Regions from separate parts of the Homo sapiens genome. Here region 1 is linked to region 2. The links come from fine-mapping of genetic effects on gene expression. A gene starts in region 2. The other region holds a variant in brackets. All regions are shown on one strand. Distances are from middle to middle. Region 1 overlaps RSBN1 (round spermatid basic protein 1). Region 2 holds the start of RSBN1 (round spermatid basic protein 1).

Region 1 (5,385 bases), 36 kb before region 2:
GAGCCTGGCCAATATGGCGAAACCCCTCTTTACTAAAAATACAAATATTAGCCAGTGGTGGTGGTGCACGCCAGTAATCCCAGCTACCTGGGAGGCTGAGGCATGAGATCACTTGAACCCGGGAGGCAGAGGTTGCAGTGAGCCAAGATCGCACCACTGCACTCCAGCCTGGGTGACAGAGCAAGACTCTGTCTAAAACAATTTTTTAAAATAAAATAAAATGGGACATTTTTATCCAATCAGATCAATATAGTTTAAAATGTTAGTGGAGAGTATGAGAAAAAGGGAACTGTATTATATGAGTGGGTATATAAATTGGTATATTTCTGGAAGCCCATTAGAAATGTGTATACTTTGAGACTTTAGGAATTTTTACTAAGAATATAAACACGCATGGCCACGTGCAGTGGCTCACGCCTGTAATCCCAGCACTTGGGGAGGCTGAGGCAGAAGGATCACAAGGTCAAGAGATCGAGACCATCCTAGCCAACATGGTGAAACCCCGTCTCTACTAAAAATACAAAAGTTAGCTGGGCATGGTGGTGCATGCCTGTAGTCCCAGCTACTCGGGAGGCTGAGGCAGGAGAATCATTTGAATCCGGGAGGCGGAGGTTGCAGTGAGCCGAGATCGCGCCACTGCACCCCAGCCTGGCAACACAGTGAGACTCCATCTCAAAAAATATTAAAAAAAAAGAAAACAAACACGCATATGCACAAACATACATATCTACCAAACTTCCATCCATATACAATCAGTGGTATGCTCTATATACTTTACATCTGACTTGAGGGTCAGGGGAGGTGGCTGATTTTAGCTGATTTGCTGATTTCTATGGTATAAATACACCTAACACGAATGATTTCCAGTTACTAACGTGACATCACGCAATGTGGAACTGGAAAGTGATGCTAATGATGGCCTTTGTGAACAGGTACAAACTGGCTCCAGCACACCAGTATCATGTTTTCAAAATACTGTTTACATTGAAAACCTGGGAAAAAATTACACTAATAAAGAGTTGGTGAGGGCCAACTCTTTTTTAATTAAAATTAAAAAAAACAACAGGCCAGGCACGGTGGCTCACGCCTGTAATCCCAGCACTTTGGGAGGCCGAGGCGGGTGGATCACGAGGTCAGGAGATCGAGACCATCCTGGCTAACACGTTGAAACCCCATCTCTACTAAAAATAAAAAAAAAAATTAGCCGGGCATCATAGCGGGAGGCTGTAGTCCCAGCTACTTGGGAGGCTGAAGCAGGAGAATGGTGTGAACCCGGGAGGAGGGGCTTGCAGTGAGCCGAGATCGCACCACCGCACTCCAGCCTGGGTGACAGAGCAAGACTCTGTCTCAAAAACAACAACAACAACAACAAAAAACAACTAGCCAGGCATGGTGGCAGGCACCTGTAGTCCCAGATACTTGGTGGGGCTGAGGTGGGAGGATCACTTGAGCCTGGGAGATGGGCTACAGTGAGCCCTGATCATGCCACTGCACTCCAGCCTAGGTGACAGAGTAAGACCCTGTCTCAAAGAAAAAACAAAAACAAAAACCAAGAATTGGTTAAATAAATCTTGATACAACCATACAGTAAAAATTCCCAAGTTTTAAAGTAAACATCACACAAAGAATGGATTTTGTAAAAAGATTATTTATGGCTATATATAATTTGAAAGGTTAATATGCCTAAATGGTGGCTACCTTTTTTTTTTTTTTGGAGATGAAGTCTTGCTCTTGTCCCCCAGGCTTGAGTGGAGTGGCACAATCTCGGCTCACTGCAACCTTCGCCTCCCAGGTTCAAGCAATTCTCCTGCCTCAGCCTCCCGAGTAGCTGGGATAACAGGCGGCTGCCACCATGCCCAGCTAATTTTTGTATTTTTAGTAGAGATGGGGTTTCACCATGTTGACCAGGATGGTCTCGAACTCCTGACCTCAGGTGATCCGCCTGCCTTGGCCTCCCAAAGTGCTGGGATTACAGGTGTGAGCCACCATGCCCAGCCTGCCTTCTTTCTACTCTTCTTTTTTTTTTTCTTTTTGAGATGAGTCTTACTCTGTCGTCCAGGCTGGAGTGCAGAAGCACCATCTCAGCTCACTGCGACCTCGGCCTCCTGAGTTCAAGCGATTCTCATGCCTCAACCACCTCAGTAACTAGGATTACAGGAGCGTGCCACCACACTAATTTTTGTATTTTTACTAGAGACAGGGTTTTGTCATGTTGCCCAGGCTGGTCTTGAACTCCTGGACTCAAGCAATCTGCCTGCCTCAGCCTCCCAAAGTTCTGGGATTACAGGTGTGAGCCACTGCACCTGCCCTCTTTTTACTCTTTCCTATTACTTTTTTCTTAAGTTTATAAAAATCAGGAAACAAATGATGGTCATTTTTTGAGGAAAGATTACAGAACAAAAAATGTATATAGTATTTAACAATTTAATAAGATTTCAAGATTCGTCATCATCCTGCAACAAAAACTGCTATAATCTAGCAATGTGCAGAACTTTCAAATGACTCCTGGGTTTTTACCATGCCACCACCCTGCATCGTACATAATGTTTTCAAAGTATTTTCATACATTTCAAGTACCTAAGATTATTCCATACTTAGCTCAAGTATCATTCTCCTATGAGCCTTAAGTTAAGGTTTAGATTAGTCCATTAAAACTCACTTCTGGGCACTTATTTTGAATTGCTATTTTCGTAGTCTAAGCAGGTATAGATCATTTTCAGTCTCATTAAATTAGATTTTTCAAAGTACTAGAGAGTGAGTTAATCTACATTTGTCTT[C/A]AAAGTCTGAAACACAAAACATGTTAGCACAATATGAATTACTGAGGCTCGGTCCTATAGAACATTATTGGTTTCATGTAGCAAATACTGGTTACCTAGTATATGTCATGAGGACAAAGATGAATAAAATAGTCCCTGTCTTCCCAAAGCACACCTCAAATGTTAGTAGAAAATAAAAACATGTAAACAAAACTTTAATGAACAGAACATTGTAGGGAACAATTAATTACCTAAGGAAGGAAAGAAAAACTTCACAAAGGAGGTGACGTCCAAGTTAAGTTTTGTTTGGTTTTGGTTTGGGTTTGAGTCAGGATCTTGTCGTGGAGTCCTGGGCTCAACTGATCCTCCTACTTCAGCCTACCAGGTAGCTAGGACTAAAGGCATATGCCACTGTGCCCAGCTCAAGCTAAGTTTTGAAAATGTATTAAGTTTGCTGTGGGACGGTAACCCCAGCACTTTGGGAGGCTGAGGCAGGAGGATCATTTGAGGCCAGGAGTTCAAAGCCAACCTGGGCAATATGGTGAGACCCCATCTCTACAAAAATAAAATACACAAAACAATTTTTTTAATCAGATGGGCATGGTGGTACACACCTATAGCCACAGTTACTTGGGAGGCTCTCCTGAGACCAGAAGTTCAAGAATACAGTGAGCTATGATTGTACCACTGCACTCTAGCTCTGGGCAACAGAGTGAGACCCTATCTCAAAAAAAAAAAAAAAAAAAAAATAGTGCAAAAGCAAAGAGTTATGATAGACTATGGTTTGGAAAGTGAATTCGGTATGGCCGGAGAAGACTAAACACAGATACATCTAGAAGAGGTACAGTTGACCTGATTATTAATGTAAACCACACTAAGGGGTTTGATCTTTTATCCTGCAGGCAGTTAGGGCACAGGTTTTTAAAAAATAAGTAAAAATTAAATTTGTGTTTTAGAAAAATGCCTCACTGTGATAACTGTGATGATTGGACTGAAAAGAGGAACCGACAACTAAAACATTTACTTAAGGGAGCCCAAGACAAATGGTTTTCAAACTGTGCTCATTTTTATAAGCAACCAACTAAAAAAAAGTAGTTTTGCTTATTTGAGAAAAAGAAATATTTACCGTCGTCTTTTGAAGGGTGACTTTGGCATATCTGCTGTAGGGATCATCTGTTCTCCTGGCCTTACCCACATTATAGGCCCATCATCACTCTGGGACCTACACTGGAGTCGGAGGCTAGAAAGTGTACCCCAGGGCAAAGTCATCTAGAAATCAGACGGATTAGTCACATTAAAAAATTGTTTCAATGATTTATAAGTTAATCCTCCCACCCAAATAAAAGTTCTAAGAAGGCTTTTTTACAACTGTATATAAAGAAATAAATGCTATTTACATAGTAATTTATATTAAAAAGAATAATTGAATTTAAGTACTTTGTACTAATATTATTCTATCTAAACATTTCTGTGCAAAACACTGGATAAATTTAATTTCAATAGGCAATATTAGCTAAATACTCTTCAACATATAAAGTGCCCACTTAAGTAAAGATCAAAACTTTAATAATCTTAATTAACACTCACTTTCAGAAATGGTGATTCTTCTAACATATCAAGGAACTCTGGGAAATAATCACCAACTTCTTCATCTACTGCTCCAACGAGACTTATCTGCCGCATAGGACCTGCTCGGTAGGTGCCACAGCAGTATGTCCTGTTGACCTAAGATAAAACAAAAGAGGGAAAAATGGACTGAGGTACAACTATAATATAATTAAAGAATTAAAATAGGTTATTGTTTCCAACGTTGCCATTTCTTCTACAAACTAAGAACTGAATGGTCAATACCTTGAATAAAGTCAGAGAGGCACCCAAGCACACTGACAAATACACTAATACATATGCCACAAGCAAATTTCAATGTGTGATTTAACCTGAAGATCTCAAAGAAACATTGAAGACATTAATATCTATTTAATACTTAAACTTCTCTAAAAATGATTTTTTTAACTTTGTAATATTTTAGAGTGTGATCTTTATTTAAGAAAAAAACATATAAAAGTAAAATCATCAGGGCAGGGAGAAAAAAAGACCATAGTCATATTAATCTTCCATGTTCATTTTGTACTCCCTAGCTTCAAAGTCTTCACTTTAGCCCAGATACCAGGATACGAGGCTCACTGTTACCAAGACAGGCCAATCTTTTTTTTTTTTTTTTCCTTTTTTTTGAGATGGAGTTTCACTCTTTGTCCCACAGGCTGGAGTGCAATGGCATGATCTCAGCTCACTGCAACCTCCACCTCCCAATTCAAGCAATTCTCCTCCCTCAGCCTCCCAAGTAGCTGGAATTACAGGTGTGCGCCACCATGCCTGGCTAATTTTTGTATTTTTTTAGTAGAGATGGGGTTTCAACACGTTGGCCAGGCTGGTCTTGAACTCCTGACCTCAAGTGATCCACCCGCCTTGGCCTCCCAAAGTTTTAGGAGTACAGGTGTGAGCCACCAAGCCTGGCCCCAATCTTTTTCTCTACTCAACTTATGACAAACTTATTTCTACCTCCAGTGATTTTTCTCTTGAATCTGCCCAATCTGGAATGTCCTCTTTTCTGTCAACCCAAATCGTATCC
Region 2 (5,385 bases):
GCTCACACAGTAAGTGTTAGAGCCATGATTTAAACTCAGATTAATACCAGAGGCATGCCTCCTGCATACCACTGTAACAATAAAGATGTTCAGAGGACAAAAAAGATATCAGTCAAACTATGTGCAAAAGCCTGGATTAAACAAAGTTAAACCAGTTTATTTTCTGTAGGGTTTTCAAAACTTTTAAAATGCCAGTTTGCCAATTCATGTTACATATGTAGAAGGCTACAGTACACAGTTTTTCTCAAATGTATTTGACCAAAAAATTCTTTTTCACCCAAAATATAGTTTGGGTATATAATCCAACAATCTCTCAGCCAAAAGTTAAAATGTTTAAATGGGCTTATCTTAACCCACTTCTCTTCTTCACATGTTGGCAAACTACAGATATTTAGAGTGGTGTTGTCCAGTGTGGTAGCCACTAGCCATATGTGACTAATTATAAATTAATTAGAATTAAATAAAATCAAAATTTCAGTTCCTCAATCATGCCACATTTCAAGTCTGTTCAGGAACCACATACGGCTACCATATTGGTCAGCACAAATACAGAAAATTTCCATCATCTGAGAAAGTTCTATCAGTCAGCATTAGGTCAGAAGTGTGTTTTTTAAAGAACATGGGGCCTGTGCAATCTTCAGAGAAAGATTGTAAATTATTACACATGTTATTGCCACTATCCCCCATAAAACGGGGCCAGGTCAGAGATCCTCGATGATATAAAGCCACTGTAATGTCAAAGCACAGGGAAAAGGTAAACAAAGGAGTGGAAAAAATGAATAGCAGGAAGAGAAAGCAACATCATGAAGCCTGGAGATGAAGCTTGAAGCAGGATTCAGGAGCCTGGGTTCTACTGCCTGTTATGCCAATATTCACCTTTTTAAAAAATATTTAATTTTTTTGCACTTCATGCGAATTAACTGTGATTTGATTGAACAGGCCTCTTTACTACTTTGGGCCTCAGTTTCCTTTTCTACAATACAAATTTAAGCCAGAGGATCACTAATTCCCTCTAGTTCTGTACAGTTAAAACACACACACACACACACACACACACACACAAGAAATGAGAAAGTAGGGAATAAAAGTAAAAATAAAAAGAGAGCAAGATCATTGCATATTGGTGGTGAAAACTGGCAGTCCTGTCATCTTGCCACAAGTTCTACTCCCAAGATTTGGATGCCACCAAATGAATAAAAATTTAATGCTATTCAATAAATACTTATTGAGCAATTATTTGCAACGAACTACAGTATTCGGAAATAGCACCACCAAAAAAAATGATTAGCCTTAAGACTCAATACGTGGAAAGAATGCAAGACTCACAAAACTTTAGGTTGAAAGATTGTCTCATTAACATGTAATAACCTAACTGGTCCAGTACTAAGAAACAAGTATTTCAAATATTCCTGAGGAAAAACAACTAGTAAATTATATAAAATAATATATAAAGTACAAACATACGGCATAATCAAAAGCATCACATTTCTTCCACAAAGAATATAAATAAATGCTACAGGTACTTGGGAACAGGAAGACATCAGTTCTGGCCAATCTAATTTTTCTAGAATCCACATTTAATTGGATACTCTGACATTTTCTAGTAAAATATTCTTGAGGGCTATTGGAATTAACAGATCCACAAAGTGTGCTAGACAGAATCAAATGCAACTGAAATTCCGGCCTCTACTATCTACTGCACAAATTCCCACTTTTCAGAGGCACTGTTGGTCCTATTTCCTAGTATCAAAGGGTAGAGAAAACCTTCCACATGCCTATTCTAAGAATTTAAATAGCTAATATGAAAACTTTAAAATGATTTTTACCTCTAGATTAAAAAGAACCAAGATAAACTGCGTCTGATATTTTACCTTGCAGAAGCTAAGTCAACCAGTGAGTCGTGTAACCTTTATATGAATTCCCTCCTGAAAGACTGGAACCATACCCCTGACTATTCTGGAGCAAGGGAGAGCAGATAACTAAAGCTCTCCAGCAAGCAAAACAAGGAGAAGGGATTTTAGGAACATGCCTTTTCTTTGGAAAGGCATTTTTTAGTACCCCACCTACTAATCTAACGCGGCGCGGAAACCTTGCAGAATTTGAAAACAAATGCTGAGAGGCTCCGGGGGACCGGTAAAGGGATTAGCAACTGACAGCTCGGCCTCGGAGCGAGAAGCCTCAAGTAGTTAGATCAAACCGTGTCAACGATCTGAAATCCAGGGTCCACCCCAGTGAGCTTAGAGAAGTACAGCAGCAGAAGGTAAGCAGGGGTTTGGCGTCTTTCAGTCCTAAAGATGCGGGATATCGGAACTGAGAGAGACCTAGAACCCAAGCCGGGCAGTTTGCCTGCTCTCACCTCTCTTGGGGGCTTTGATCAGAGGCACCCCTCCAGTCCTCTCGCCGTTTTCCTGCTTGTCCTTGTGCTTGAGATCGGTTCCGCAGGAGCTGGGATCACCATCGGGGCCGCGGTGGTGATGGTGCTTGTGCCGCTCCTTGTGGCCCTTATGCTTGGGCCCGGCCGCGCTCACCGTCAGAGGCGAGAAGGTGAAGAGGGCCGAGGTGCTTGGGGCCGGGAGAGGGGCAGCGACAGCGGGCCCGGCGGGTGCCAGCGAAGGTGGCGGCGGAGGCGGCAGGAGAAGAGGCTCAACAGGGCCTGGGACAGTTGGGGCTGCATTCGTTGGCGGCAGCGGCCCAGGATGTTGGCGGCTGCGACGCCGCCGGTGAGGGGGAGCGAGAGGGGGCTCCTGGCTCGGCCGCCCCCGCTTCTCCTGAGACCCCCCACTGCTAGATCGGCGCTGCCGTTTAACTCCCCGCGGGGAGACCCCAGCATGAGGTTTCTCCTTCCCCTCTTTGTCCGGCTCCTCCTGCGCCGCCACCGCCCGTACTACGCGCACCGCTCCGACCTGCGCAGCCATTTCACCCACAAACACACATTTAAATGGCCCGACCGCCCCCCCGTCCGCGCATCGCGCAAGCGCCGCCCGCGCACTGCCCGCTGGGCATTGGAGTCTCTCCTCCGCCCTCCACTTGTCGGCCGTTCTTCGTCCAGAGATGAACATGCCGGAAGCGGCCGTTCCCAGCTTTTCTCCGCAGGCCTCTCCAACCGAGCTTCTATTGTAAAGCACCCTATGCCGCGCAAAGCGTCATGGGAGCTGTAGTTCCGCCGCGCCCCCGCCGCGTCCCCGGCTCTGAGTGGAGGAGTGGAAAGGGAGCGTGCGCGAAGTCACGCTTCTGGCTGCGACGCAACCGCCGCTGGGCGGTGAGTTGCCGCCAACCGCCCTAACGGCCGAAACAATGTTAATGGCTTTCAGAGTCTGGCGGCGCGTTCCCATTATCATCTTCCTGTGACCCTTCCTCATTTTACACGGAGGAGGTGGTCTCCACAGTGATTTTAAATTTAATATTTCTCTCATAACCTTTGTGAGATAAAAGAATCTTCATCCTTTTAACTTTGACGAGGGATGAAATGAAGGTGAAAAGAGGATTTAGTAATATGTAAAATAAGGGTGGTTTTGCTGTAAAAATATGATAGGGCCGCAATTCAGAAATGTTTTCAAGCATCTGGGGCATTGCTATGGTTACAACTACAGGCCTACGAAGTCAGGTGCGAGAACTGCTTGGAGTCCTGGTGAGGACGGCCCCTCCTCGCCATCCGGCCACATCCCCTCTAATGCCTGGAAATGTCCAGCATTTATTTTGAATATATCCCTACAGTTGCGAAAAATTGTAGATGGAAAACCACGTTTAAGATTTTTTATAAGTTTTTTTTTTTCAAATCTTAAGGATAAGATTGCATAAATTTGAAAAGTGTGCCTACCGGAGAACACACCAAAAATCATCACTGCTCACTACGGATAGTTGTTGCTCAGAAATTCATTTAGAATTTCATCCTCGCTTTAGCTTTTACCTGGGGTTCTTTTAAGTATTTATTTAGAGACGGGCGGGGCGGGGCTCGGTGTCTCAGGCCGGTAATCCCAGAGCTTTGGGAGGCCGAGGCGGGAGGATTGCATGAGGCCAGGAGTTCCAGATCAGCGTTGGTAACATAGTGAGCCTCTGTCCCTACAAAAGTATTTTTTAAATTATCTGGGTGTCGTGACACGCGCCTGTAGTCCCAGGTACTCGTGAGGCTAAGGTGGGAGGAGTGGTCGCACCACTGCACTCTGGCCTGGGTGACAGATCTAGACCCTGACTCTTAAAAAAAAGAGACAAGGTCTCGCTCTGTTGACCAGGCTGGCCTCCAACTCCTGGGCTCAAGGAATGAGTAGCTGGGTCTACAGATGCACTCATGGTGCCCTAAGTAACTCATGGTTACCTAGAATTCTTTTAGTATATTTGTTTATTGATAAAGACATTTGGAAGTAATTGATTACAATGATATATACTCAGCAGATAAAATTACTGTGGTTTGATTTCACTAGTTTCTGGAGAAGTATTACCTAAACACTACTGCAATGAAGTCAGTTTAACAACCAAAAAGTTTATTGAGTGTCTGTTGGATACATTGTACTACAAGAGACAGATAATAATACTTCATTCAATTTGCCCTATTGGACTTCCAAATGAAAAATACTGAAGAACAAATGATGTTTAAACAATACTACATGTTTCTAAAAGTTATAAATAAAGTTATTTAAATAAAAATATTTTTAATGCATTAGGGGAAGTCAGGTGGATTCTTTGTAAAAACAATTACCTGCCAATTTATTTACTACATAAAATTAGAGTTGAACTAGATTTTCTTATGGCAGATCCATATTCATATAGAAATTCATTTTAAACTAGTATTTCTGATTGGTTAGATAAAAATTGCACATGATCTGAAAGATCCTGTATAAACATATACAATTTATATCTTTTGCTACCAAAAGATAGCTATTATATTTCATTGATTACTTTTCTAGAATTGGTAATTTAATGACTTTGGTTAAAACTTATCAGGATTTCAGTTGAATTCCTTGTTACATTCAAATAATTGTCATTATTTGCACATTTTATTCTAATAAATATAATTTCTCATTTTCTTAATATTCCAGTTTTCCACAACATTTGGGAAGATTTACAAGGTATACTCCATTTAGGCAAAAATAACTGTCAGGGAATAGTCATTGTCAAGAGCAGTTTGTATTGCAACCCACAAAGTAAGTTTTTTTTTTAACTTTTTATAGTATATTCTGGCAATGTAGAAATTAGTTGAGATCCAAATCTTACAAACCTTTTGAAGTTTATGTTTATGTAGAAAAGTAAAAGAAAATAAAAATAACTGGCAAAAATGAAAAATAAATCCATTCTAAAAGTGTTTCTCATATAGCATTCTGTACATAAGCTCAAGTGACAAACTTTTATTTGCAGTTTTCAACTCAATGCAAATGATATGAAAATGCAAAA

The links. PIP is the estimated chance that this variant, and not a neighbour inherited with it, causes the effect.
Region 1: its variant is the best candidate, but not a certain one, in a credible set for the expression of RSBN1 in T cells (TOPMed, PIP 0.87).

The regions. Positions count from the first base shown.
Region 1 is chr1:113,773,328-113,778,712 of GRCh38, forward strand. RSBN1 (round spermatid basic protein 1) reads right to left here. Exons shown (of 7, transcript NM_018364.5): 3 at 4,344-4,481; 4 at 3,883-4,025. Among named protein-coding and RNA genes, the nearest start is that of PHTF1, 17 kb to the left of the region's middle. The variant C/A (reference allele first, on the strand shown) is at 2,778.
Region 2 is chr1:113,809,354-113,814,738 of GRCh38, forward strand. It overlaps RSBN1 (round spermatid basic protein 1), which reads right to left and starts at 3,123. Exons shown (of 7, transcript NM_018364.5): 1 at 2,357-3,123. The coding sequence starts at 3,059. It overlaps PTPN22 (protein tyrosine phosphatase non-receptor type 22), which reads right to left. Exons shown (of 21, transcript NM_015967.8): 21 at 4,458-5,385. AP4B1-AS1 (AP4B1 antisense RNA 1) reads left to right here and starts at 3,259. Exons shown (of 5, transcript NR_125965.1): 1 at 3,259-3,472; 2 at 5,034-5,138. RefSeq lists enhancers at 1,934-2,463, 2,188-2,247, 2,398-2,487, 2,464-2,993, 2,868-3,257 and 1 more.